2 linked regions of the Homo sapiens genome follow. The protein of the gene in region 1 purifies or fractionates together with the protein of each later gene. This does not show direct contact. Each region holds a gene or a part of one and is shown on either strand. Other genes may lie near its edges.

Evidence for each region. Proteins that work in one complex are often made in the same cells at the same time.
Region 2: the proteins of PLEKHG7 (region 1) and BCAS3 purify together in Homo sapiens (affinity purification with mass spectrometry; one large-scale study listed by BioGRID and IntAct). This does not show direct contact.

What each region holds. Positions count from the first base shown.
Region 1 is NC_000012.12:92,737,489-92,740,988, reverse strand, and holds part of PLEKHG7 (pleckstrin homology domain-containing family G member 7), read right to left. Parts: coding exon 3,468-3,500; intron 137-3,467; coding exon 41-136; intron 1-40.
Region 2 is NC_000017.11:60,676,704-60,680,650, reverse strand, and holds the start of BCAS3 (BCAS3 microtubule associated cell migration factor), read right to left. Parts: upstream 2,801-3,947; 5' UTR 2,737-2,800; intron 1,199-2,736; 5' UTR 1,194-1,198; coding exon 1,111-1,193; intron 1-1,110. UniProt on the Homo sapiens protein: Plays a role in angiogenesis. Participates in the regulation of cell polarity and directional endothelial cell migration by mediating both the activation and recruitment of CDC42 and the reorganization of the actin cytoskeleton at the cell leading edge.

The DNA.
Region 1 (3,500 bases):
CTAGTGAATGTTAAAACATGAATCTTCCTACTTGGCTCACCTGAGTTAACTCCTCCAGGTTTGCAAAAAGTCTCCATAAATCCACATCTAGGAGATATTCATGAGTTTGCAGATATCTTAGTGTATTCATAAAGATCTTTGAAATAAAAAATATATACACATTAATTTCTGTTTTTTAATTTTGCAACATGCCTTTTGCAAGAACTTTAAACATAAACCTCCTGGGTGTAACTTTACAAAACAATGGAGAAATCAGCACTCTCAAGGTTTAAATGTTATACTCAAGACAAATGGTCACATTTAAGCTTCAAAGAACATATTGGAAATGAGCTTTTCAGTATGAAAGTTGTGGTTGCTTATGTGAATTCTAACAACATTCCTATTGAACATAATCTGTCCAAATGGGCTTCCTCTACTTCTAGTGCCAAAGAAATCCCAAAGATTCTCTTCTTGCCAACAACACTACTAACTTGAGAGCAAAACAATATTCATGGTGTATTCTCATATGCTCTTTCTTCTGCAAAAGACCCAAATATACTTTACTTTCAGGGAATTAAAAGTAGATATTTAATGAGTTAATCTCTGATAACTGGTAAAATGTTTCAGTTTGTTTAGAGGCATTAAACATGGATGAAAACATTGAGGGAGTTTTTATGTTATTTTCACTTAATTTGATGATTTCACAAATTGGAGAACTATACAGCAAGTCAAAAAAAAGTACAATCCTCACTTACAGATAGCCTGCCCTTCATTCTATAAACTGAAGAGAGATCAATTTATTGAAAAAGAAATACTTTGTATACATAAGACAGGAAGCATTCAAAGGGACAAAAGGACAAATTATTTCAAGAATTTTAGGGGTTAAAAGACTGGGCTTTAGATAGATAACCTTCTCCAATTCCTATTCCTGTATTATTTCATTAGTGTAATGAGTGGTTCTTGAACTTGCATCGGAATCACCTGGCAACTTTGTTACACCAGAGCTTGCTGGGCCCCCACCCTCATCTGTGACGGGGTCTGAGAACATGCATTTCCAACAAGTCACCAAGGGATTCTGATGCTGCTGGTCTAGAGGCCACCTGTCAAGAACCACTTAGACCTTTTAAAATCCATGGAGTATTGGTTGTCTGGAAATTTGTCAATATCCAAGCATTTAAAACATGATTGTAAGAAACAGAACTCATTACTACAGATAGATTAGGACAATTTGGAAGAAATACTACTTTTGCTATAAGATTCTTTGCTTTACAGAAATTTTGCTATTTAAAAAAAATACTGAGTCTTCCAGTATATTTATTATATGAGTTACAAATTTTTAATTCATAAGCACTTTTGGAAAACATATTGATTGTGTAAAAGGAAGGTACATATATACTTTAAATACACTGAGGTATTTGACAGTGAGCTCAAATTGGCCTTTTCTTAAACAGGAAATGTCAGTTTGAAAAGCTTGGACAGCTTACAGTGGGATAGAAAGTTCTGTGCAGTTTCTTAGGACAAGGAAGGTGGCATAACTCAGGGGCTTCGTTCTCTGCGGTGAACATTTATTGTTACCACCCCCTGCAATACTCCCCTTCCCTAAAAACAGCATGGTTTTCACCTCAGTGTCTACTCTTCCCCAGGCTGCACATGTGCCATGTGGCAAGCTGATCTCATTCCCAGGGGTGGGCCTTGACTGCCTTAAGCCAATTGGCACATTCCTTCTTTACAGAGCTAGAGGATTTGGCTCACGGGTGGGCACGTGATCTAAGCCAGTCCAATCAGAATAAATCTCAAGACTTCTGCTATGAATGCTGAGAAGATCTCTCTCTCTCTCTGGCCATTAGCTCAAGGATAGCAACCAGGCTGTGACTACAAGAGAAGCCAGCCATAGGATGTGGCTAATGCCATGGAAGGCAGGGTGAGAGATGGGAAGAAATGTTGTTTTGTTTTGTTTTGTTTTGTTTTGAGCCCTTGATCAAACATGCCTTGAATTCTCTCCCACCTCTGAACTTTGCAGTCACATGGACTAATAAAATCCTGTATTATTTAAGCTAGTTTTCTATTACGTGCTCTTGTAAGCATCCTAACTGATATTGTCTCTAAATTTCAGTTTTCTCCTAGAGTGTCTTTGCGGTTCACATTTTGCTAAGTTAAGGATTTAGCACTGTGATTGACAAAAAATATTACTTACAGAAAATAACTGACATTTGTATAGCACTTGATAGATTTCAAAGAAAACTAATTTGATCATCATAATGGTCTTATGAGATAGCCAGGGATGGTATTGTCATTTCTCTTTTACAGCTTAGGACAAGGACTGTCAAAGTATGCAGCCTGTGAGCTTAATCTGGCCTGCCACCTGTTTTTGTAAATGATGTTTTCTGGGTGACAGTCATGCACATTCCTTTAGGCTGCTTTTGTACTGCAATGGCAGAGTTAAGTGGTTGCAACAAAAACTATATAGCCTGAAAAGCCCAAAATATTTACTGTCTGCACCTCTGCAGAAAAGATTTGTCAACCCCTGGTTTAGGGTATGAAGGACTAGACTTTTCTAAGGTCACAAGGCAAAACAGAGGCAGAGCCAGGGCTTGAACTCAGATCTGCCAGCACAGTGCCTTTTGGCTGTGTAAGACAGTCACCAGGATGCAAAAGTGCGGTGGGCAGAGGCAACCTTGGGAGCTGTGTGGCCCATCCTCCCCTGTGGTCCTGGGAGGAAGCTGCTCTATGGTTCTCTTCCTTGCTCTATTGTTCTTCTAGAAAAAATTCTGTGTTCTGAGCCTCACCAGAGCATGGCTGCGACCATAGGGGTGCTATTTACATGAAAGACATCATGAATATACCATGTAATTCAACAGTACTAAATTGCATGTGGGTGGTAGCCCCCTATATCTGCAATGGTGGCCCTGCAGCTGATAAAAAGCATTCACCTGGTACTGTTCACGAGGGAGCAAGAGCTCCGAGAGAGAAAGCCGAGCAAAGATGCAATGGACTGCCTGAGAAGGGTGTAAGCTCCCTGGCTCAGGAGTGTGCAAACTGGTGAGACAAGGCAGAAGAGATTCATTCAACATCGGATGGGACACTGGACTAGTTCACTTAGACGATCTCATCCAATGTTAAAGTATAAAGAGACAGTAGAGTAATAGGTAAACAAAAATAAATGACAAATAAAAATTTTCACGATCCCCTGAAAGAGGGAGAAAAAAGCCTCACCTGGCCTCCCGTTCCCTCTCTTTCCCTTCCTTCCTTCCTTCCTTCCTCCCTCCCTCCCTTCCTCCCTCCTTCCTTCCCTCCCTCTTCTTCTCTTTCTCTCTTTTTCTTTTCTTGTCTTCCTTCCTTTCCTTCCTTCCTTTCTTTCTCTTTGTCTCTCTTTCTCTTTCTTTCTTTTCTCTCTTTCTTTTCTTTATTTCTTTCAGAAGAGGAAAACAAGTGCCCAAAAAAACAAATTAATATTTTCCATCTACTACAAAAATTAAGCCTGGCATTACCATCTTAAGAACTAATAAATGGTCCAAAAAATA
Region 2 (3,947 bases), on another chromosome or scaffold:
AAAAAAAAAAAGTATACATATCTTCAAACCATATTAGATTATAAACTCACTCTAGTAAGTATAGACATTCTTTGTCAAAGAATGCCAAAAACAGAGACATATACTATGACACTTACTTTGAAACTTTCTGACAGAGACCTAGACTAAGAGATTCCTTTTATAGATAACACATGGATACATAGACGGGAACACCACACACTGGTGCCTATCAGAGTTGGGTGGGAGCGGGGAGAGGGTCAGGAAAAATAACTAATGGGGACTATGCTTAATACCTGGGTGATGAAATAATCTGTACAACAAACCCCTGTGACATGAGTTTCCCTATATAACAAACCTGCACATGTACCCTTGAACTTAAAAGTTAAAAGAGATACATTTTACATCACTGTCTGGTAAATATATACATACACATGAACATATTTATGTGCATGTCATGAAACAATACAAACTCTCAGCTATATTTTCTAATTTTCTATTATATTCTATTTCATTTTCTTTCTTTTTTTTTTTTTTTTTGGAGACAGAGTCTTGCTGTGTCGCCCAGGCTAGGGTGCAGTGGCGCGATCTCAGCTCACTGCAAGTTCCACCTCCCAGGTTCACGTCATTCTCCTGACTCAGCCTCCCGAGTAGCTGGGACTACAGGGGCCACCATACCCGGCTAATTTTTTGTATTTTTAGTAGAGACAGGGTTTCACCGTTTTAGCCAGGATGGTCTCGATCTCCTGATCTCGTGATCCGCCTGCCTGGGCCTCCCAAAGTGCTGGGATTACAGGCATGAGCCACTGCGCCCGGCCTCTATTTCATTTTCTACTACAACTCCTGACCCACTAAACTGATTTAACAATCCACTAATTTGTTAAACCTGGAGTTTGAAAACACTGCTCTTCAGGATTTAGCATAGTGCTCTTCACGTACTCTGTAAATGTGCTGAATACGTCAACTTAACTCTCCAATTCTTCATTTGGTCTTGGCAATTATTATTATTCATCCCATAAAGCCAACAGTTAAAAGATTTTTACAAAAGTAACCACTGTTCATAAAGAAAACCTAAATGTTAGTATTCTGAGTAATCTTTTCTTCAGCTATTGGGTTTATCTGAAATGTGCTTACGTGACAGCCTGGGGGCGAACCACAACTCCACCAGTACAACGACTGGGTCTTCTTGGGGAATCTGTAGCCATAGCTTCATTCATAAAACCTGTTTCCAGAACAAACAAACAAACAAAAAACAGAAAAACATGGATCGTTGTTGGGGGTAGGGAGGAAGATTTATGATTACTCACTAGAGATCCCTTGTCAAAAATGCCTCAAATGTAGGAAACTTTCCCAGAAATTCCTGTTACACCAGAAAGGGAAAAAAGGAGGAAGTAGGTTTTTAATTTTTTTCAAATTATAATGAGGGGTTTGGGGGGTTATTATTATTTTTGAGATAGAGTCTCGCTCTGTCGCCCAGGCTGGAGTTCAGTGGCACGATCTCTGCTCATGGCAATCTCCGCCTCCCAGGCTCAAGCAATTCTCCTGCCTCAGCCTCCTGAGTAGCTGGGATTACAGGCGAGCGCCACCATGCCGAGCTAAATTTTATATTTTTTTGTAGCGACGGGGTTTCACCATGTTGCCAAGGCTGGTCTCGAACTCCTGAGCTCAAGCAATCCATCCGCCTTAGCCTCCCAAAGTGCTGGGATTATAGGCTTGAGCCACCGCGCCCATCCTGTTTTGTTTTTTAATAGGACCAGGTCTCAGAACCACAAAACAATGTAAGGAAGACTCCTGCTGTACCCCTTGGTCTGTTGTTAACATAAATTACAAGGGTGAGAGAACCAGATCATGGGATGGGAATTTACTGCAATTTTATGTTGAGATAGTGAAAATACACATGGTACAATATTTCAAGACCAAACGGAACAAGTGACATGATATCACTCTACCTTCCAATTAAACCTGTTGGGAATCTATGAGTAAATCACAATTTAAATCACATTCGTAACCCCCTGCTACTATAACAAATAAGTCAAGTAATTATTTGACTAGTAGCAAGTAGTCAAATAACTAACATAAACTAATACGTTGTTACAGCCCTTTACCCTTTCCCGTCACATCAGTAAATCCTGATCCTAGAATGTTTCATGACCCTCTGAATCACTGAGATTTTAAGAGCATGGAGTCGGCTTGGTTAAGGTTAAAAGAGGACTGACAGCAATATCAAAGATCTCTTACAGGGCTCAGGGAAGCCCACAACCTGGAACTCATCTTGAAGGCACCGAAAACCATTTTTAAGTAGGGAGCATTCACACCTGATGTGAAAACTCTAAACCTGTGCGCCCCACCTCCTACAACCAAAACACCCTCTGCCCCAAGGAGCAGAGCCACCACCTCCTCAGAGGATACCTGCACCTCCAGCCCCTCAGCCCTCTCATTCTCATCCCATTCTTGCTTTCTCGAACCACAGTCTCCCAAGCCCTGCCCTTTAAGGGCCCTGTCTCCTGGGGACGACCCTCGCCAGCCACTCAGGCCCCAGTCTCCTGAAAGACACTCGTACGGCGCTGCCCACTTAACCTCCAACACGGAGCCACCGCTGCCCCCGGCCGCCCTCCGGCCCCTTGCACTGTTCCCCTCCCCCTCCAGTATCGACACCTCTCTCCTGTCGAATTCCTGCCAGCCCGACCCAGTCCCCTCACGCCGCCAGTCCCTCGTCCTCCCCAAGCCTCCCCAAAGCCAAAGCCCTGCCAGCCCTCTCACCGGCCGCCCCGCCGGTTAACGCTAGTCTCCAGCTCTAGGCTCACTGTTTGGAGTCTCCCCGAGTGATTGACGGCAGCCACTTCCTACCACGCCTCAGCGGAACCACCCCCTCTAGCCAATCCCAGAAGCAAACCGGCTATGGCCGGGCACCGCCCTTGGAGGTCAGCTTCGCCAACCAGCAAGTAGGAAAGAGGCGGACCCGCCTTCTGAATGTGTCCAATCCGCTGGGGCTGGAGGGAAAACACAACAGCATGTAAGTTCGGGTGAAGCCGAGGTGTCAGGTTCGGTTGCAAACGCAGGCAGCTGGGGAATAATTACGAACATGTACATTTTTTTTGGAAGACAGAACCTTCGTGGCTTTGAAAAGAAAAGCAACATGATCCAGACTCCTGTCCCGCTCACGTGAGCGTTTCAGGTTGGAGCCGGAGGACAGGGAGACTGGTCTGTTTACATCGAATTCTCGCGACAGCTGGTTCCAAGCTCGGAGCACGTGGACATGGCAGCTGCCAATCACTTTTAGCTGGCCACTCACCCGTCCCACACCCGCCTTCTGCCCAGCCCTTGGCGATGTGTTTACCTTCCGGGAGCCTAGGCTGGCTCGCGCCGGCGATCAGCCGAGGAGGGGTTGATCTGAATAAGGGGCACGGCCGGTAATCTCAACAATTTGAGCTAGGTTTGTAGACCACTTCTTGCTTCAGTTTCCATCTCCCTTATTGTTGAAGATCGAGATCTCGCCATTGTCATTTCATCAGTTCATTTATTAATATAAGTAGAATAATACTGACTGACTTCTTGAACACTCAGCACAGGCCTTCGTATACTTCATATACAATACTCTAATGTATTATCAAATTTAATGCCAATGACAGGTCCGTGAGGGTATAGCTTATTAACAGGCGTGGTGGGCTGGGCGTGGTGGCTCACGCCTGCAATCCCAACATTTTGGGAAGCCTAGGCGGGAAGATCGCTTGAGGCCAGGAGTTCTAGAACAGCCTGGACAACATGAAGAAACCCCGTCTCTACTAAAAATAGCCAGGTGTGGTGGCCAATGCCTGTAATCCTAGCTACTGGGGAGGCTGAGGCGGAAGAATTGCTTGAACCCAGGAGGCGGAGATTGCAGTGAGCCTATAGATCACGCCATTGCCCTCCAGCACTTTAGCCTGGGTGACAGAGAGTCCCTCTCAAGACAGATAGATAGATAGATAGATAGA